Regions from separate parts of the Homo sapiens genome. Here regions 1, 2 and 3 are each linked to region 4. Evidence: fine-mapped expression QTL. A gene starts in region 4. Each other region holds a variant in brackets. All regions are shown on one strand. Distances are from middle to middle.

The links. PIP is the estimated chance that this variant, and not a neighbour inherited with it, causes the effect.
Region 1: its variant is the best candidate, but not a certain one, in a credible set for the expression of VENTX in whole blood (TOPMed, PIP 0.90).
Region 2: its variant is the best candidate, but not a certain one, in a credible set for the expression of VENTX in whole blood (TOPMed, PIP 0.69).
Region 3: its variant is the best candidate, but not a certain one, in a credible set for the expression of VENTX in blood mononuclear cells (TOPMed, PIP 0.55).

The regions. Positions count from the first base shown.
Region 1 is chr10:132,915,106-132,920,246 of GRCh38, forward strand. CFAP46 (cilia and flagella associated protein 46) reads right to left here. Exons shown (of 58, transcript NM_001200049.3): 14 at 4,954-5,077; 15 at 4,210-4,337; 16 at 3,288-3,415; 17 at 1,444-1,577. Among named protein-coding and RNA genes, the nearest start is that of CFAP46, 25 kb to the right of the region's middle. The variant C/G (reference allele first, on the strand shown) is at 1,956.
Region 2 is chr10:133,211,353-133,216,493 of GRCh38, forward strand. KNDC1 (kinase non-catalytic C-lobe domain containing 1) reads left to right here. Exons shown (of 30, transcript NM_152643.8): 22 at 70-217; 23 at 327-506; 24 at 1,364-1,570; 25 at 2,293-2,375; 26 at 2,620-2,770. It overlaps LOC105378573 (a long non-coding RNA gene), which reads right to left. Exons shown (of 5, transcript XR_007062351.1): 3 at 4,908-4,973. Among named protein-coding and RNA genes, the nearest start is that of UTF1, 16 kb to the right of the region's middle. The variant C/T (reference allele first, on the strand shown) is at 2,970.
Region 3 is chr10:133,200,474-133,205,614 of GRCh38, forward strand. It overlaps KNDC1 (kinase non-catalytic C-lobe domain containing 1), which reads left to right. Exons shown (of 30, transcript NM_152643.8): 17 at 1,028-1,425. It overlaps LOC105378573 (a long non-coding RNA gene), which reads right to left. Exons shown (of 5, transcript XR_007062351.1): 4 at 1-1,799. Among named protein-coding and RNA genes, the nearest start is that of UTF1, 27 kb to the right of the region's middle. RefSeq lists an enhancer at 1-622. The variant C/T (reference allele first, on the strand shown) is at 2,424.
Region 4 is chr10:133,235,185-133,240,324 of GRCh38, forward strand. It overlaps VENTX (VENT homeobox), which reads left to right and starts at 2,671. Exons shown (of 3, transcript NM_014468.4): 1 at 2,671-2,971; 2 at 4,492-4,652; 3 at 4,748-5,140. The coding sequence starts at 2,731. The coding sequence ends at 5,122. RefSeq lists enhancers at 1-436, 1,646-2,249, 2,250-2,854, 2,855-3,458.

The DNA.
Region 1 (5,141 bases), 320 kb before region 4:
CATATAGTCTTCACTGTATATTTTTTCTATTTTGTTTTACAAATTTAAAAGTGTCAAAGCCACTCTCAGCTCACAGGCTGCAAACGGCTTGAGCCCTAATTTTCAGACCCTCCTCTGTCTGTGAGCAGGCCCACCAGGAGTGCAGAGCTCTGCCCAGCCTTGGGCCTGGGTCCTGGAAAGGCATCTGGAGCCCCTGCCTGAAATGACGGGGCTGTGAGGGCTGGAGGCCCGGGGTGGGCCTGGGCCCGGTGGCTCCTCACAGAGCCCGGAGCTGCTGCAGGAGAGGGATCCCAAGAGGCCAAGACAAAGGCCACCTGCAGCCGTCATCGTCATTGCTGCTGCCTGACCACCTCTTCCCTCCAAAGAGCTCGGCCGGGTGGCTCCAGGCGTGCATGGCAAGCAGGGACAGCTGGCTTTCCTTCTGCCCCAAGGGACCGGCGAGGGCGGGGCGCCGTGCCCAGCTTCTGCCCCGAGGGACCGGTGAGGGCGGGGCGCCGTGCCCAGCTTCTGCCCCGAGGGACCGGCGAGGGCGGGGTGCCGTGCCCAGCTTCTGATGCATGGATAGTCGGGGACACCCGAGCTTACCACGTTCGTGTGCTTGACGCAGCTGCATTGCAGGGATAAGTTCCCGTGTCCTATGCACGGCGAGCGACTATAGTTTACAGGGATGCTGGAAGGGGGACATCGAACATTCCCAACATGGAGAAACAACGCACGTCCAGCGTGACGGATTCGCTGATTACCCAGATCTGATCACCACGTTACACAGATCAAAACGTCACTATGCACCCCAAAAACGGTAAAATTCTTGTCAATTAAAAAAATAAGTTAAAAATATTTAATTTTATATTAAAAATAGGTAAAAACCATCATTGCTGGTACAAGCACTCCAATTTCAATTCTTTCTGAACTTGGAACCTCACGTCAGCAAATCCTGTGAGATGTTCTGTACAAACTAAATTTTCTTATTGACACACAAGGCGTTTTCGAGGCCAAGGCAGTCCTCGATAGCTTTTCCCACAATAGGAGGGAGAGCACAGCTTTTCCTCTGAGCAAATACAGAAGCTGCTCCTTCTATTTTCTGCCACGAAGACCACCTCCCTAGCAGCTGCCTTTCACGCATCATCAGAGGGCCTGACGAGGGTGAGCAAGAGGGACACTACAGGACGCTGGAAAAGACACTCCTGAACGTTTCCTCGTAGTAACAGCAAACTACGCCTGGGGTCTTGCGAGGAACGACGGCTAAAAACAGGAGAGGCCACGTCACCCCATTTTCTCTTTCATGGTCTCAGTCATTTACGTGACGATGGACACGTCCCCCACGCAAGAAGCCGGTGTCCTTACGAATGCAAAGGGTGTCCCTCCCCACGCCAGCCTGAGTGCAGGGGACACTCTGACCCACGGCCCCGGGCGGTGCTCAAGGCCACTGTCGCCTCTGCCCACCTGTATGTGATCCACTCAGCATTCACCTCCGGGGGCTCAGGCACGTAGCCAGCTGGGTGCTGGCTCAGGTCTTCGGGGGGGATGGCCCGGTCATTCAGCTCTACACCTTCTGACCGCAGCAAATGAACCGTGGCCTGCAAAACACACATGCGGTGGGAGGGGTCATGGGCGGAGCACGGGCCCAGCACCAGATAGGAAACACACACGCCCTTCCCTCAGCTCTGATTTGAAAATGCCAAGCACAGGCTGTGAGACCCGTTTGCTGTGCCCTTTGCAAGCTGGGCCTGCCCCAATAGCCACTCCAGGGACTAAAGCCAGCTCCTCACAGACTCTCTCCACCCATTAGCACAAGGGTCAGGGAAGAGAAGGTCCTTCCAGAGCACCGCACACCCCAGCAGCCCCGAAGGACCAACAGTGGCTTCCCGGTATCAGCAGACACCGGCCAGCATTTGCACCTCCCCTACGTAATCATTACGTTTTAAATGTTTGAGGGGAAAGGTCTGCGCTGGCCT[C/G]CGGGGCGTGGATGACCATGTGGCACAGCCCCGTGGCCGCCGCTGGCTCTGGTTCTGCCATGTGGCCTCCGGCTCCCTGAGCAGAGAGTTCTGTGCCGCTTCTCACCCTGACCCCAGCTGAGGGCATGGGCCTGGCACCTGGGAGCCACTCAGCAGACATACTGCCTAAATCGGCAGGTGCCCTGTCCTCCAGGGCTGATGGCCACGCACCCACTGAGAAAGTCCACAGAAACCTAACCGAGAGTGGCTCTGGGAACTCTGAAGTCACACAATGTCACAAGGGCCACACTTGTGTTGGTGCAGCGCGGTGGCTGCGAGCTCGGACCCGAGGTCCCAGGGCTGGGTTTGGATCCCACTCCGCCATTTCTACCTGCTGACTTTGGGCAGGGCGAGCCCGGGAGTCTCTGAGCCTGCGTGGGAGGAACAGGCCTGGCGGCCCCATCACAGGGACCCTGGACATCACGCCACATTCAATGCGCTTCTGCAGCAAATGCCGAGGTACCATCTCCCCACCGAGTGGCGGTTGCCGTGTGTCATCCACACAACTGCAGATTCACCACTCAGAAATGATTCCCAAGAGAAATTTACACCCATGCACACTTTGGTTTATATTTTTCTCCTAGAAAATCTCCCAAGAATCCAGGAAGTTTTCCCTCCCTCATATTCATTTTGTTTGAAGCACAGAAGGTTCTATGACAATAAATATCTGCAGTGGGTTAACAGGCCACGTGGACACCAACACCTGCCCCACAGCAGGTTGTGTGGATGCAGGAAAGCAACCCTCTGACGCTGTGGTGCAGGGACACACCTCAGCATTGATAAGCCCCAGTTCCAGGATGCACCTCAGCACCGATGAACCCCCCTCTCCACGACGCACCTCAGCACCGATGAACCCCCCTCTCCACGACGCACCTCAGCACCGATGAACCCCCCTCTCCACGACGCACCTCAGCACCGATGAACCCCCCTCTCCACGACGCACCTCAGCACCGATGAACCCCCCTCTCCACGACGCACCTCAGCACCGATGAACCCCCCTCTCCACGACGCACCTCAGCACCGATGAACCCCCCTCTCCACGACGCACCTCAGCACCGATGAACCCCCCTCTCCACGACGCACCTCAGCACCGATGAACCCCCCTCTCCACGACGCACCTCAGCACCGATGAACCCCCCTCTCCACGACGCACCTCAGCACCGATGAACCCCCCTCTCCACGACGCACCTCAGCACCGATGAACGCCCCTCTCCACGACGCACCTCAGCACCGATGAACCCCCCTCTCCACGACGCACCTCAGCACCGATGAACCCCCCTCTCCATGACGCACCTCAGCATGGATGAACCCCACCTCCGCGAACTTCCGCAGCAGGTCGGGGCACACCTGCCTCTGCAGGACGACCTCAGGCTGGCTCCAGGTGTCCTGCACCGAGCCGTCCCTACCTCGCTTCTTCTTCCCTGAGAGAAATGGCAGCAGGTAAGGATCATGTTTTTTTCTAGCAAATAAATAAAAACACAAGAATTCCTGAACCATCTTGGAGTGCCTGAGCCTCTCCCCAGCTCCGTGTAGGGTCCGCCAAGGTGGGCGGGTAGGCGGGAGGTGGGCAGCTTGCCCAGGAAGAGGCTGGAGGAGCTCTCCGTGGGATGGCGGAGGTGGGTGGAGTGCTGGCTCCCAGCCAGGGCTTGCTCTTGGCCACATCCCTGCAGATGCTCTTGGCACCTGTGGCTCTCCCAACTCCTCCTGCATCCCCTGCCTTCTTGGGGGGTGCCCTCCCTGACTCCTGCAGGACTCCCAGACCCCCTGTGCCCGTTCTGTCACCTCCCTCGTCCCTCCGGGTCCTGATTGTCCCTGAGACAGGAGCCTCTCCAGGGCCGGGTGCTGATTGATGAGCCTGCCCCACCCATGTCCCGCTCCACGCTGGGCCTGTGGCCACTGCCCTCTGCCTGCAGGTGCCCCGCATGGGCATCTGCTCACTGGCTGTGGTGGCCCCTGCCTGAGCCTCCGAGGCCCCCAGTGACTGAAGATGGAGTGTGACGACGGTGCTCGTGGCTCGGCCGACACAGCCAGATGTGGCCGCCGCCCCATGATTGGCGGTCCTGATAATTAGTGGGAACTGCTACCATTGTGACTTAGCAATACGCTTTCTCATGCGAAGGCCCCATGGGTTGTCATTGCACGAACCACAACCCTTCCCACACCCAGAGGGCGGCCGTGGCCAGGCTGGGACACACTCGTGAGGGCGGGTACGAACCTCGCCGCAGCCTCAACTTCTTCACCTTGACGTTGTCATACAGGAGGCAGAAGCGGCTCGCCGTCCGACAGACGTCCCACACGCCTTGTTTCCGGGCCACTTTGGCCAGCTCTGCCCAAATCTGTATCCTGCTCACCGAGAACCCAAACGAGTGAAAGGTGAGTAGACAAGTGTGGTTGCTGAAGTTAGAAAACACCTGGGCTGGCTGCCTGAGAAAAGGCCACTGTGGCTCTGCAGTTTCAAGGTGGCAAGGAGCCCGGCACTCGCGCTGGGTACGGCCTGGCGGGTGCATGTCCCAGGGTCGGGCGCAGCTCTCCGCTCTCCCTGCCAGCCAGCTGTGCGCGGCACCTCCCTTCCCTGTGGTGAGAAGAAAGGCCACACAATCCACTCCCCGGGGGAGTGCACGGGACAGGCCTCCCGGGGATGGTACCGACCGCAGGGTCGGTACCAAAAATCAGCCTGCTCTGGTCACAGGCGCTGCGTGTCCTCCGAGTGACAGCAGTGACAGGCGGGACAGGGCAGCCGCACACCTCATAGGCCGTGGCTGTCATCACAGGCTGGGGGGTCCCGTCTGTGGCGGGACTCCCAGGCAGGGACCTCGTCCCACCATCCTGGAGCAGGTGGCCTGGCGAGTCCCCAGACGGCCACATGCAGGGTCAGCTCAGCCGCCACAGACACTGGCCCTCGGGCTGAGCGACCCCCGGGCTGAGCTGTGCGTGGCGCTCTGGCCTTTTCCTCACTCACCTCTCCTTGTCGTTTTCGTTGCCCAGGCGCCGCAGGTGCCCGGCAGCTTTGTCCACGCTGACGGTGTGGTGCCACGCCTTCGCACAGAGGTAGGTGAACCGGCCCCTGTTCTTCCCGGTGGAGACTGAGGGCGGAAATGCAAAGGCAGGTGTTGCAGCTGCTGGCCAAGGGCCGGGGACGTGCCCATC
Region 2 (5,141 bases), 24 kb before region 4:
TGCAAGCCCCTGGGCCTCTGCCCCCGACTCCCACATCCTGGCAGCTCAGCAGCTCCCCTGCGTCTCCAGGGCCCACCAGGACCCCACCTCGACCTTCACCAAGATCTACAGGCGGAGCCTCTGCGTCCTGCAGGCCTGGGTGGAGGACTGCTACGCTGTGGACTTCCCTCGGAACAGCGGGCTGCTGGGGAAGCTAGAGGACTTCATCTCCTCCAAGGTGACAGTGGCGCTGAGCTGGGCGGCCGCACCCGGGGCTCCCACAGTGGGAGGTGCCGCCCTCCTCCAGAAGGTGGCAGTGACCCCCCCACCACTGTGCTTCTGCCTAGATCCTACCCCTGGACGGCTCTGCCAAGCACCTGCTGGGCCTCCTGGAGGTGGGCATGGACCGGCGGGCCGAGGGCAACCCTCGCGGCACAGACCTGGAGAACCCCAGGGAGGCCGAGGAGGATGCCAGACCCTTCAACGCCCTCTGTAAGAGGCTCTCAGAGGACGGCATCTCCAGGAAGGTGGGGTCCTTTCTCAGGGGAGGTCCTCCCTGGACAGGCGGATGTGGGTCCCTGAGCCCAGCCTCAAAGACACAACTGGTGCATGCACACACATACACACAAGTGCAAATGGGCACAGCTGTATACATGCATACACATAGACGTGTGCACATACACTTGTGTGCACATACATACCTGTGCACATCACACACATCCACACGTGCACATATGCATGCACCTTCACACAATCCACACGTGCACATGCGTGCACACTCAATCCACACGTGCACACGCACGTGCACCTTCACACAGCCATACATGCACTCGTGTGCACCCTCACACATATCCACACCTACACGTGTGCACCCTCACACATATCCACACCTACACGTGTGCACCCTCACGCAATCCACACATGCACACACGTGCACCCGCACACGCATCCACACACACACGCATGCACCCTCACATCCACACGTGCACACTCACATACCCCCTCCATGTTCCCGGTCCCAGGCAGCCCTGCTGCGCTGGCACCTCCTGCACCATCCCGGGTGCTCAGGGGAGGAGGGTCCTGCTGTGACTCATTGACCCACGGGCCAGAGACTAAGGCAGAAGCCAGTGTGGGGAGAGAAATGCCCTCTCCATTAAACCTCAGCGTCCTGCCCGTGGGGCACCTGCTGAAACGACCAGGACAGGCATCCTTGTGCCAGCACAGCTGCGGGTGGGCAGGCTGCTCTCTGGCTCTGGCTGGGCCAGTCTGAGGAGTACTGGGCTTGCACCTGGCCTGGTCCTCACCCCCCAACCCTGCCTCCCTGGACCCCTGACCCAGAGGGGACACGGAGCTTAGGCCCCTCAGTGCCCGGCCTGCCCTGCAGAGCTTCCCCTGGAGGCTGCCCCGAGGCAACGGGCTGGTGCTGCCGCCACACAAGGAGCGCCCCTACACCATTGCTGCCGCCCTGCCCAAGCCCTGCTTCCTCGAGGACTTCTACGGCCCCTGCGCCAAGACCAGTGAGAAGGGGCCCTACTTCCTGACGGAGTACAGCACTCACCAGCTCTTCAGCCAGCTCACGCTGCTACAGCAGGTGAGGAGGGCGAGGATCTGCGCCCAGGTCACCTGCGAGTCGGGGCCCCAGAAACACTCCGCGCCCATAGGGCCCTCAGCGGCTGCTTCCAGAGGAACAGACGGGCAGAGAAGGGGCCAGCTGCCAGGTGCACAGGTTGGGGGTGGCTGCCAGGTGCACAGGTCCAGGCGGCTGCTGCCTCAATGGGAGGCCCCAGCAAAGCTGAGTCCTCCTCTCCAGACCACTGCCCGCTGGGCCTGGCCCTGCCTCTGCCCAGCACTCTGGCCTCACAGGCACTAGAGGATGCCCTGAGGGCCGCATGGGGCGCTGAGTCTCTCCCCCCAGCCCCTCCACCGGAGCTGGGCCAACCCGGTTCCTTGTGCCCCCACCCAGCTGCCAGGGCCCTGCCCAACTTCCTCTGCCGCCACCACAGCCAGCCCTCAGGTGGCCTCTTCCCAGGTCCCTGCCATCCCGGGAGCCCACATCATGTAGCAGGTGACAGCAGTGATGCCAATCTAGTGATCCACCTGCTGTCACGAGGGCTGCCCCGGACACCATGAGCCCCTGGGGGCCAAGCACATGGGGAGCCCTGCAGCCGACCCCTGTGGACTGTTAGATGGGTATTGAACCTGGGATTGCAGAGCTGGCCCCCCAGAAAACACCCACCCTCCCTGGGACCCTGCCTTGGACACAAGGCCCTAAGGGATGGAAGCCTGAACCTCTTGTTTCCATGTTCTGGGCAGGAGTTGTTTCAAAAGTGCCACCCGGTCCACTTCCTGAACTCACGGGCCCTGGGCGTCATGGACAAGAGCACTGCCATCCCCAAGTGAGCGTCCGGGACCCTCAGCTGGGAGCGGTGGTGGAGGGTCTCGGGGGCTTCCCGTAAGAGTCTTGTGGACGCTCCTGACCAGCAGGAGATGCCTGTGTCTCCAGAGACGCGAGAGAGTGGTGTCTGCCAGTTGGAGCGGCCTCGTGGCCCGACCCCAGCCCACCCTGCACCAGCAGCCCCAGGGCCGGGCAGGGCCACTGCACAAGTCCTGGGGGTGACAGGGACCATATTTCTCTTCCAGAGCCAGCTCTTCTGAGTCTCTTTCGGCCAAAACCTGCAGCTTATTTCTGCCCAATTACGTTCAGGACAAGTATCTGTTACAGCTTCTAAGAAACGCAGATGACGTCAGCACCTGGGTGGCTGCAGAGATTGTGACCAGCCACACCTCCAAGGTGGGCACCCTACAGTTCCGAGGCCAACACGGGGCGTGGGGCCCACCTACGCGGGGGTGGCAGCGCCTCCTATAAGGCCGTGGCCTGAACCCTCTCCCAATGCAGTGAACCCAACTCTGTGTCCCTTGGAACCACACCCGACCCAAGGCTGAGGGGAGCAGGGCACAGGCTTCACTACATCAGGAGGAGGGGGGTCAGC[C/T]GCCCTCCCAGCTCTCCCCCAGCACTGCCTGCCACATCCACGGCCACATCCACATCCACGGCCACTTCCACAGCCACGTCCACATCTGCAGCCAGAGATGGCTCCCCTCAGTGGTGGGTGATCCTTGGCTGTGGGCCGCCTGGAGACCCAGGACAAGCTGCACCCACCACTGCTACCACCCCCACCTGTGCTCACCACACACAGAGTCCCTCACGCACCACCCCCAGCACTGGGCTCCGCCACACACCCCACTCCACCCCAGGCCCCATCCCCTCTGTGCCTGAGCCTGGCCCCTGGGCTGGGGCTTGTGATGCCCAGCGTCCCACCCTGGGCTCCTCCTGGCCGAATGCTCATTGTGGGTTCTTAGTCTGTGGAACGGATCGGCTCCGTGGTCTGACCAAGGTCAAGGTCAAGCTCCAGCGCCGGGGCCCAGTCTCAGCCTCTTCTAGGTCCTGTGGGGCTTGGGCTGGACTGGGGGCTCCTCCCCTGACCTGCCCCACCTGCTGTCAGGCAGGGCACTGTGCAGCCCCTAGAGAGTCACTGCCTCGACCAGCTCATCCTTCACGGGGCTTACCTGCCCAGGAGGCATCAGGGTCCACAGCTTCTCAGGAGGCCAGAGTCCCCCAGCCCCAGGGGTCTGCACCTTCACCCAGCGGATGCCTTCACCCAGCAGACGGACAGCCTATTACAGAGGACTGTGATCTCCTCACACCTGAGCTCAGCTGGCGCTTGGCTGTCGTGGGCTGGGGTCACCAGGTCCCGCTCCAAGTAAGACTCAGGATTACAGGGCCCCTTCCCCCACAGCAGGCAGGTAGACGCCCACCCCCTCCTGGGCCGGAGCTCTCTGAAAGCAAACTTGAGCCCAAGGAACAGGACTCCCGGCCACGAACCCCATCACTGCCGTCCCTGCTGCTGTCCCAGAGTGGGCTGAAGGCTCTGGGGGAACCAGGAGCTGCTCGCAGTCCACCAAGGTGCAGTACCTCCCTGCCAGGCGGCAAAGCCACCTCCACGGTGGACAGAGCTTCCCTTCCTATTATTCCTTCACACCCCTCCAAGCCCGCAGGCAACCCCGGGCCGTAAACGAAGGCAGAGGCACCGCCTTCTCTCCTCCCTTGGGGAGAACTTTCCAACTTTGGGGATTTGTCGCCAGGGCACGCCAGCACGGGGCGTGGGAACAGGGAGCCTGGTTGCCTCTTTCCTCAGATCCATGGTTTTCACCATATCGTGAGGGACATGAAAATGCGATTTCCCTAAACCAGAGCCTTCACGCACGGCCCGTGTGGCCAGGCTTCATGAGGATGAGCACAAGGACAGGTGGCTGTCACCTGGCCAACCCACATCGTCCTGGGCGCACCCTCACCCCGAGCTGCCCCAGCGGGTGGAGGACTGCCCCTCCCAGCCTGAGACCCACCTCGAGCCTGCGGCGGCCCTGCCTGAGGGTCTCCGGGATGGCCGCTCGTCCTGGTCACGCACCCGTGTACAGGTCTGCAGGGTGGGCAAGAGTCGTGCAGGCTCACACCCAGGGCTGCTGGCACCCAGCGTGGCCGGGACAGAGCTCGGCACTGCTGCCACATCCCCGTTAGCAAAAGGGAGCTGCGGATCGCTCAGAACAGGCCCCTCACCTCCTCACGGGAGCGGACGGACCTCGCCGGAGACCCACTTCTAAAAGCACCACGCTCGTCCATCTAACAAGTGTTAGAGCCACGATGTCCTGACGTATTGTGTCTCAATGGCTGTGAGGTCGGAACAATCCAGGACACTGAGTTTCACATTTGTAAATTCAGGACCCCAGAAAATCATTAAAATACAAAATTCGAGCACAGAGGGCAGCAGTGATCAATAAAAATGCTCGGGGGTCAGTGGCTCCGTTCTGACGATGCCTGGAGTGAGGCGAGGTGGAGACACAAGGGCAGGAAGAAACGGCATAAAATTTCTCACCTGAAGAAAATGGGGGGTCGGTGGTTCCGTTCAGACAATGTCTTGGTGGCACCGTTTAGACGACGTCTGGAGGGAGACAAGGTGGAAACAGAAGCAGGAAGAAACAGCGTAAAATTTCTCACCTTAAGAAAACGCAGGCCGGTCGCAGTGGCTGATGCCTGTAACCCCAGCCCTTTGGGAGGCCGAGGAGGGCAGATCACTTGAGACCAGGAGTTGGGATCAGCTTGGACAACA
Region 3 (5,141 bases), 35 kb before region 4:
GGGCCCCGCGGCAGGAGCTCTGCTGGGCGGCTCCTCTGTGCTCTCTGCAATGCGGGGGGCGCCCCAGGGTCCCAGCAGCCTCAGACTGCACTGCTCCAGCGGGGCTGCCTTTGCCCCGGGGGTGCCCAGCCAAAGGCCGCCCTCTCCTGGGGGTGCCCAGCCAAAGGCCGCCCTCTCCTGGGGGTGCCCAGCCAAAGGCCGTCCTCTCCTGGGGGTGCCCAGCCAAAGGCCGTCCTCTTCTGGGGGCGAGCAGGAGCCCAGGACCTTGGAGGTGGGGGGTCCTCTGTCACCGGCCACTGGGACAGTGGGAGCCGCCGGGAGCCAGGTGGGATCCGCTCTCCAAGCAGAGGGGGGCCTGTGAGCCGGGGCTTTGGTGACAAGGCAGAAGTGGGCTTGTTAGCCCCAGGATCCCAGGGCACATGAGTGCCAGGCTGGGGACGTCCCAGCGTCCAGCCAGCAGGCTTGGTGTTAGGGACAAGGTGGGGGTGGTGGTCACCCTCAGGCTGTCCGTAGTCGTGGCCAGGCTTGGTGACGGGCCCAGTTCCTATCAAGTCGGAGACCAGGCGGGCAGGCTGGGGCATGAGGCCCGTGCACTCCTGGATGGCAGGAAAGCCCTGCACAGGGGAAGCTCCCGCAGGGACAGAGCTGGGGACCACTTTTTAAATTCCAGAAGAAAAGAGGAGAGCGTGAGGGGGCAGAGGGACACAGTCCTGATAGCAGAGCCAGCGAGGACAGGGCCCGGCCCCACCCCGGGGCGAGTACGAGTTTGGAAGCAGTGAGGGCGCAGAGTGGGGCTCCATCTGGGGAGAGGCCTCTCTCTGTCACCCGGCCCCGTGCGGCAGTTCAGGGTCCCAGCATCTCCCCTGCACTGGGAGGCGGCAGCCGTGCCCGGGGGGCGCCCGTGGTGGGCGGGTGCAAGAGAGAAGGGCGTCGGGTGTGCAAGCACCACCGGCCTCCCATTAACAGCCTGCCCGGGCTCCGCCCACAGGAGCCACTGTCCACGTAACCTGCGTCTCTTTCTTTCAAGGAAAAGAGAAGCCAGCCATGGCCAGGACCAGCAGCAGGGCCCCCTGCTCACCCACCTCGGTGTCGGATGTGGACTCGGACGCACTGTCACGGGGAAACTTCGAGGTGGGGTTTCGGCCTCAGAGGTCCGTAAAAGCCGAGAGAGCGCAGCAGCCTGAGGCTGGCGAGGACAGACGGCCAGCTGGCGGGGCCTCAGACGTGGAGGCAGTGACCCGACTGGCCAGGTCCAAAGGGGTCGGCCCAGCCTTGTCCCCCGGCCCAGCCGGATTCCAGAGCTGCAGCCCCGGCTGGTGCAGCGCCTTCTACGAGGCCGACTGCTTCGGGGCCGACGTCCACAACTACGTGAAGGACCTGGGGCGGCAGCAGGCGGACGGGGCCCTGCCCGACGCCCAGAGCCCGGTGAGTCCCAGGCCTTGGCACTGCCGGGTGGGGCAGGGCGTCTCCTTCCAGCAGAGCTTCCTGGTCACTGCAGGTGACAGATGGCACCGTGTGCCCAGAGCCCCCAACAGGGTGACACTGGTCCTGGTGCCCCCACCCCGTGGCTGTCAAGATGGTCAGGGCCCCCTCCCTGGGCTGAGCTCCACGTCTAGGGACAGGCTCGTCTGCACTGGTGCTCCTGGTGGCTCCACGTCTGAGGACAGGGAAGGGCTTTTCTCTCATGGTCGCCCGGGCGATGGGTTCACAGGAGGCCCCTCCATGCTCGTGACCAGGTTGCGTTCGGTCGTGTTTTCCGTGGGGCAGGCACAGCCTCCGGGCCCTTGGGCAGCCTCGCTCTGCAGTGAAAGAAAACACCAAAAACGCCTGCCCAGCAAGTCTAGACTGGGCCTGGTCGCTGCAGCCTGGTCCGGGCTTTCTGGCCAGCAGTGCCATCCTGGGTCAGGAGCAGCTGCAACTCCTCCCTGGCCAGCAGGGAGAGGAGGTCTTAGACCGGGGAGTCCTGGGTGCAGGAGAGGCCTGCAGAGCTCTGGACGCAAGGTGGGACCAGTGACCCACAGCCCCGACCTGGGCTGCATTCTCGAGAGCCCCGGGACTCCAGGGTGGATGACAGGAGGGGCCCAGTGGCCATCAGCTCCGGGAACCTCTCCTACCACCGTCTGCCTCGAGCTGAGCCACCGTGGGAAGCCTCCCCCAGCCTCTGGGCATCGGAGCCCTTCCTGGGGCTCCTCCTTGCTCCTCTCCTGCCGCCTCCTGGCCTGCACTTTATGACTCAGTCCAGAACATGACCCGGTGTCCCTTCAGGGCAGGTGAGGGGACAGGGGTTAAGCTCTGTGAAGCCTTCACTTCATTTCAGCTTCTGGGCCACGTGAAAGACCCGCATGGTGCTACAGCCTCTGCACCTGCATCTCGGACACCCCACACAGGGCCTGAGGGGGCTTCGAGGACGCAAAGGCCGCCCC[C/T]GGGGCTGGGGAGAGAAAAGGGCGGCCGGCACAGCAAACACCAAACGACCCGGCCCCCAAACGCAGGGAGTCCAGCAGGGAGCACTCAGCCCCCAAACTCACGGCGTCCAGCCGGGAGCACTCCGCCCCCAAACGCATGGCGTCCAGCGGGGAGCACTCGGCCCCCAAACTGGCAGAGTCCAGCGGGGAGCACTCCACCCCCAAACGCACGGCGTCCAGCGGGGAGCACTCGGCCCCCAAACGCACGGCGTCCAGCGGGGAGCACTCGGCCCCCAAACGCACAGAGTCCAGCGGGGAGCACTCGGCCCCCAAACGCACGGCGTCCAGTGGGGAGCACTCGGCCCCCAAACGCACAGAGTCCAGCGGGGAGCACTCGGCCCCCAAACTCACGGCGTCCAGCGGGGAGCACTCGGCCCCCAAACTCATGGTGTCCAGCAGGGAGCACTCGGCCCCCAAACACACAGCGTCCGGCCCATGGCCACAGCCTCACGTTTCTCTTGGAGGAGCTACTGTGTCTCTTTCAAAACAGGAGGCTCAGAAACACAGCAAGGGCAAAAACCACCTGGAGACAGACTTTCACATCCGCAGCCCAAAACGCACACGGTGCAGCGAGGGCCGTTCTCTGGGGCGGCTGGAGCAGCCGGTGGGCATTTCCTCCCTTCAGCGCTGACCCCCACCTACTGGTGCCGGCCGTGTGTGCTGGGCTCAGCACTGCGGGTGCCCTGGGGCTGTGGAGCTGGCATCCGCGTCTCCTGCTGTTAAAACAAGCGTGGCTCCCAGAGTCAGCGTGGACAGCACTGGTGTGGGTTCCTCCCCCGTCTGTCTGCACCGGTGAAGCCTGGCCTCGTGTTTCCCTCCTCACTGCCCCACATGTGGTGTGGATTTTAGTTACCGTGGATTTATTAAAATCAGTCAAGACCGTCCTCCTCATGGAGTCCGCCTGTGGTTCCCGCGTGAGGAGCGCCCCCGACGGACATCGAGTCTGACTGTGAACGGAGGCCGTGGAGGTGCCGGCCAGAGAGGAGTCTGCGTGAGCTGCACTCCAGCCAGGCGGGCATCGGGCTCGCAGGCACCCGCCTCCAGGTTCCTGGATGCGTCAGGGTACACAGACCTTTCCCAGGAGATTTTCTCGACATCAGCACCTCTGCAAATGGATGGGGGTGAGAGGGCTGGATGGAGCCTGGCGCCGGTGACCTCCGGGGGCCGGACGAGGGCCCCATGGTGCAGGCCATGGGGGAACGTGGCCACCACCATCCTCAGAAGCCAGGACCAGGTGCCCCGGCAGCAGAACACAGCTCCATGGGGACACCTGCGTTTACCAACCTCAACCTGCCCAGCCCGGTAGGTCCTTCCTTGATGATGGAATGTTCTAGACGCTGTCCACCGGGTAGCCAACAGCCACGTGTGGCTACTGAGCTCTGGAAACATGGCCCACGTGACTGAGGACCTGATGTTTTAATTTCACTGCACTTTAGGCAGCCACGGCAGCCTGCAGCTCAGTGTGGGAGGCAGGGTCGCACTTGGCTGGGTGGCAGCGGGGTCCGGAGGGCTTGGGGAACCTGGCTTAGTGGCCGAGGTTCTGCAGAGGCCTGGTCTTTACGCAGCTGGGACACTGCCCACACTGCCGTAGCGGGGAGCCTGGCCCTCCGTGGCACCGCCACGGCCGCTGCTGAACCCGTGCGTGGGAGAAGACAGCACAGGGACCCCGTCTCCATGGAACCACCAGATAGAGCGGATTCAAGTAGTTAAATAGAAATGTCGCCTGCATTTTTTTATTTTGCAAAAAACATTCAAAAATAAACCCTGTCAATAGCAGAGTCACTGGCGGCTGACAAGGCGAGGGGGTGGCTGTGTGGATCTGAGCCAACCGCACTTCACAAAAGGAAGCCTGGTGGACCGGCTCGCGGATGAGCCCCTCGGGGCGGTCGCTTCGGGCCCTGGGCACGTGAACCCCTCACAGGAGGCTGCGGGCCGAGGGCTGCCGCGCCTCTCACCTCTGCCCCCAGCCAGGTGCCCCTGCCCCGTGGCACCTCACAGTCCCCCTGAAGACCTGCTGCTCAAGGCCCAGCTCCCATGGACCCCCAAGACTTCCCAGACCCCTCACCCCAGAACCACCACCCTCCTCACCCCCAGAATCACCACCCTCCTCAGTACTGGGCCAAGCCCCACGGGTGCAGGAGGAGGCTGTATCTGCCCCTGTACCCCTAGAGGGAAGGGCCGTCTCTGGGGTCACTGCCCTGGCAGCCCATCCTCAGGGCGCCCCTCCTCCAGCCTCTACGCCCGTGTGCCTGTCCCGTAGGACAGAAGGAGTGCTCAGACGAGGGCTGCCCGGCCAGGCGTGGGAGGCATCCTGGGACAACGCGGCGCCCTCTCCCTGAATGTAGAGTCCCGTCCAGGGAGGCGCTCAGCCCCAGCTGCTGTCTGTGCATGAAGCAGTGCCCGGCGGCCCTCGCCCCCAGCTCCTGTGATCAGGACCTGCCCGTCTGGCCTCAGTCCTGCTTCCCTCATGGCGACAGCCCTGGGGATGAGGTCCCCGGCTCCATCTCGCAGGCAGGAACTCAGACTCTGGGCAGGTTCCGGAGAATCACACCCGGGCGTGCACTCACATTTACACTCAACGCTCATGCTCTATGGAGCACCCAAGGGCTGGGGCAAACGCTGCGGCCGCCGCCCAGCAAACCACGATGGTCCAGCCAGTGGGTTCCCGGGAGGAGGGTT
Region 4 (5,140 bases):
CAGGGGCACGATCTCGGCTCACTGCAACCTCCATCTCCCAGGTTCAAGAGATTCTCCTGCCTCAGCCTCCTGAGTAGCTGGCCTCCCCCTCAGGTGGTCCCAGAGTGCTCGGAGGAGGCTCGGGCGAGTCGCGACGGGGCCGGCAGCACGCGCTGGGCCCGGTGTCTGTCCTCAGGCCCTGGACTCGGGGGGAGCGCGTTTCGGGGACTAGCTGGACTCCGGGCTGTGCGTGGGGGCGGTGCTGTCGGCCTGGGAGTGACGCGGGACTTCCTGCCCAGCGCAACCCGGCCTGGCCCCCGAGGGTGGGGGACAGGGCGACGCCCGCGGGGACCACGCTCTGGGGCGTGCGGGGCGCAATTCACGGGGCTGGGCTGCCCCAGGGGCTGGGAGGAAGGAGGCAGGGGGGCGCCCAAGTCTCCTACCCATGGCAGCGCATCAGGGCGCGTCCCAGAGCCGGGGGTGGACGGAGGCTTGGAGGCGGAGGCTTTGGGGACCCCCAAGCCTGGGCTAGAGCAGCCTCGGCGGGCTCTAGAGGGAGGGTGGAGGGAGGGGCCCGGGCTGCAGGAGGCGGGGAGGCCTGAGCCACGGTGGTGGGGCCGCTGGGCAGGAGAGAGGGGCTGCCTGACCCTGCCGTGTGAAGGTGAGGTTGTCTTCGGGCTTGGGGGGATCGGAGGGGGCGGTTCAGGTGGAGGTGGTGGCGGGGGGCTGGGAAACCGGCAGGAGGGGCTCTATGTAGAGCTGGGGGTGGGGGTGCTGAACCACGTACAGAAGGGGGCTGAGACACCGGGGCCCTGGGCCCCGGAAATTAGAAATGGAGAAATGGAAGGCTGGGTGCTGGCGTTTCGGAAATGCATGCTCGTGGTGTTCCTCTTTATGTAAGGGAAGCTTCTGGGCCTTTTCCCTGCCTGTCGAACGTTCTGTATGTTTTTGCGGGATGTGTGAGGTGTGCTGTCTTGCTCCACTTTGAGGCACCGCCCCCACTGCGGGAGTGCTGGGGACCTGCCCCATGGGGCATCCTCGGGGCCAGCCCTGTGGCCACAGGCATCTGGGCCCTCGCTGCCCCTGGCCGGGACACACTGCCGGTCCTGTGCAGTGGCTCAAAGCCCCTCTACCGGGGGTGACCCGGTCTCTCCGGAGATGAAGTGCAGCGGGGGTCTAGGCCGGCTTCCTGGCCCCCCACCCCTCCTGGCTTTACCCCCGAGGCCACGTCCAAAGCCCCCAGCGCCCCACCCCCGCCAGCCTCCCCCTTGAGGGCCCAGTGACCTAACTGGGCCGGCAGGGTCCGAGGAAGACCAGGGTCAGCGGCGGCACGGTCCGTTCCGCGACCCCTCTCCTGTGACCCCAGGTAGGCCGCCGATCGGTTCCCGGCTGAGGTCCCGCCCCAGCGCCCGCCTCCCGGGCTCCAACCTCTTTGCTCAGCCCGGGAGGCTCGGCTGGCTGGGGCGGGCGTAACCGTGGGGCGAGGCCCGCCGGTCTTTCTGATTTCCGCGGGCGGCGTGGGCGCTGAGGCAGCCGCGGTCAGGACCTGGCCGGGAGTCGGGGCTGCTCCGTGGACCCCGCGTCTGCGCCGAAACCCCGCATGGCTTCGGGGGCCGGACCTGCGCCTCCGCCTAACTCCGGCCGCCGGAGACGCCGTGCGGACCCCAAGCCAGTGCGCGGAAGACACCGTCCTACCCTCGGCATGGCTGCCTCCCACCCGGTCACGTCGGTCCCCGCGCCCCACGCCGACGCGCAGGCGACCCGGGGACGCGGAGACGCAGACAGCTCGGGACTCAGGTTCGTGGGAGCAGCGGCCGCGCGTGGCTATGACCGTCCCGGGGGCCCGTGCTCAGGGCGTCCCCGTGAGGTTTGGGCGCCACAGTCACCGGCGGCTCTGCCCGCGCCCTGGCCACAGTGGGGACAGCCTGGCTTGGCGGGGACGCACCAGTCCCGCCGCCGACGCGGAGTTCCTACCCCGCCGTGCGAGGCAGTGGCTCCGGCCCTTCCAGCTCGGGATGGAGTCAGGGAGCCGCCCGCGCCCGAATGCAGAGGCTCCTGCGATGGCCCCGGAGTGAGTCCCCCAGAGGAGCCGGATTAGGGCTGGAGGCGGCCGAGTCCCCCGAGAGGCCCCTCCCGACATTCCCGCCCCCGCGCGCCGCTCCCCGGGTCCTCCGCGTCTCTTTCCCGGGAAAGCCTCCCTCGGTTCCTGCGCGGCCGCACAGCCTGGACGCAGCGCACGCGGGCACCGGCCTGACTCTCCCACCCCGAAGCCTGCTCCCAACCTAAGTCCGCCCTGACTCTCCCAGCCTGAAGCCTGCTCGCCCTCGGGTGTCCGGGCTGGGCACAGGCGCCAGCGTCCCCCTGGAGAGGAGAGGTCGCCCGGCACCTCCCAGGACAGGCCCAAGTGGGAGTGGGACCCTCCTACCTTCCTGCAGCCTCGGCCCGCGGGGTGGGGGGTTGGGAGAGATGAAAGGAGGTGACCGATCCCGAACCATCGCCTCTCCATTAACCAGGGCCCGCAGCCCCGCCCCTCCCCCAGACATCGAGGAGCCGGGGAGGTGTGAACGGCCTCCTTTGTGCCTCTGAATCGAAGGCAATTAGGCGCTGCTTATCTGGGCATTAGCCGTGTATGCAAACCGGGCTCCCGCCCCCTCCTCCTGGGCTTATAAACGCCGCCGCCTGGCGAGGCCCGAGGTGGATCCTGCGCCTGGCCAGCCCCGCCTGGCCTTCCCTCCGGCCCACCTGGCCGCCATGCGCCTCTCCTCCTCCCCACCTCGTGGCCCGCAGCAGCTCTCCAGCTTTGGCTCCGTGGACTGGCTCTCCCAGAGCAGCTGCTCAGGGCCGACCCACACCCCCAGGCCTGCCGACTTCTCCCTGGGGAGCCTCCCTGGCCCAGGCCAGACATCCGGCGCCCGGGAGCCCCCTCAGGCCGTCAGCATCAAGGAGGCCGCCGGGTCCTCAAATCTGCCTGCGCCGGAGAGGACCATGGCCGGTAGGTCCGGGTGGGGGGGGTCCCTTCCTTCCCAGGTGGAGATGGGAGTGGGGGAGAGGCCAGGAGCCCGGCGGCTGCACTCCCCGCGGTGCCCTGCCCACTAGGTCAGGGCCGGGGGCGTTTCCATGAGGGCCGGCGGAGGCCTTGCCGGCGCCCTCACTGGAGCGCAGCTTCCCTCGGAACCAAAGCCTTGACGGGGATTTCCTCTCCTTGAGCCCCCGGTGGGCTCCTCTGCCTCCTTTTGTCACCCCGTTCCTCAGCTGTGTCTTCGTCCCCCACCCCGGCCTGGTGCCGAGGGACCGTCCAAGGGGTCCCCGTCCGCACCTCCCTGCCCTGATTCCGGGCGCTCACTGAAAGTCTCGATGATTTGCCAAGCCCCCCGCCCCCGCCCCCCAGCACAGCCGGTGCCTGCTCAGCGTCTAGGCTCAAGCCCATTCCGGGTCACCTGGAGCACAGCTGTCTTTAAAGAGCCTGCAGGTTCGCTGCAGGGGTGGCGGTGACCCCGATGCCTGCAGAAACTCTGAAGTTCCCTCTGTGGCCGCCCAGATGCTCTGTTGTCTGCTGAGAACAAAGGTTCTCTGCGTTTGTGTTTTAGTCTTTGTGACATCATCACCACTTTTAGGTTTAAGGTAGTACTTGGTCAAAAGTGGGGTTGACATCATCTACAAGTTTTCATTTTTAAAAATTTGACTGATCCTTATGGAGTGACTTTGTACTTAAGGGAAATGAAAATTTAAATGTATTCTCCCCAGCTAGCTATCCTGCCCCACCCCAAAAAAGCCAGCCATCCCTGTCCCGCAACCCCCTTTCTGATGCCAGTCCTACAGCCCTCCCTGCCAGAAGGCATTTGCTTTTTGGGTCTACCATGTGCTTTCAGGCTAACGTTAAGACAGATTTTGTAAAATACGCTTCCTTCCGCAGAAACTCCAGCGAGCATTTTGGTCAGACTTGCATTTAATGTCGAGCTCGATTGGCCACGTTGGCCTTTCCTGGGACCCAGACCCAGCTCCACAGACCACCTCGTGGGGCCGTTTGGTGCCAGCCCCCATTCCTTAACTTAGAAATTAGGAAACAGACTTGACCACAGTGGGCCTGGGGATTAACTGAGTTGGCCTCCGCTGGCTGAGGAGACGGAGCCCGGGACAGGGATGGGTGCCCCTGGGTGGGTCGCCAGGCCTTTGCATATAATGGATTCTTACCTTACCGGCCTGGAAGGCTGTGGGAAGGGCATCCTGGGAACCGGCTTCTGGAAGGGAAGTGTGGGATGGGGCGGAACTGAGTGGACTGAGCGGAGGGCAGGCCCAAGCTGCTGTTAACATTCCCTCCCCTCTTGAGCCCCCTCTCTGAGCCCCCTTTCCGCATGTGACCTGGGAGGCGGCGGGGGTGCTGCTGGTCACTGTCAGGTGAGAAGATCTGCCCTGCCCAGCCCCCAGCATGGCTGTCTTCACCTGTTACCCGTGGGCACGAGCTTGCCCCATGGGGTGGCATGTTGAGCCAAATGCCCTTACCCTCTATGTCAGGGTTGAGTAAGGAGCCAAATACCTTGCGGGCCCCCCGTGTCCGCACAGCCTTCACCATGGAGCAGGTCCGCACCTTGGAGGGCGTCTTCCAGCACCACCAGTACCTGAGCCCTCTGGAGCGGAAGAGGCTGGCCAGGGAGATGCAGCTCTCAGAGGTCCAGGTGAGGTGGGCCGGGCAGGCTGGGGTGGGCAGGGGTGGGCAAGGGTGGGCTGGTGGCCTAGTCTCACCCCTGTTCTGATCTTGCTTTTCCTACAGATAAAAACCTGGTTTCAGAATCGCCGCATGAAACACAAACGGCAAATGCAGGACCCCCAGCTGCACAGCCCCTTCTCGGGGTCTCTCCATGCGCCCCCAGCTTTCTACTCAACGTCTTCTGGCCTTGCCAATGGCCTGCAGCTGCTGTGCCCTTGGGCACCCCTGTCCGGGCCCCAGGCTCTGATGCTGCCCCCTGGCTCCTTCTGGGGTCTCTGCCAAGTGGCACAAGAGGCCCTGGCATCTGCGGGAGCTTCCTGCTGCGGGCAGCCTCTGGCGTCCCACCCCCCTACCCCAGGCCGGCCTTCGCTGGGACCAGCCCTGTCCACGGGGCCCCGGGGCCTGTGTGCTATGCCACAGACGGGGGATGCATTTTGAGGAGGCACCTCTGACTCC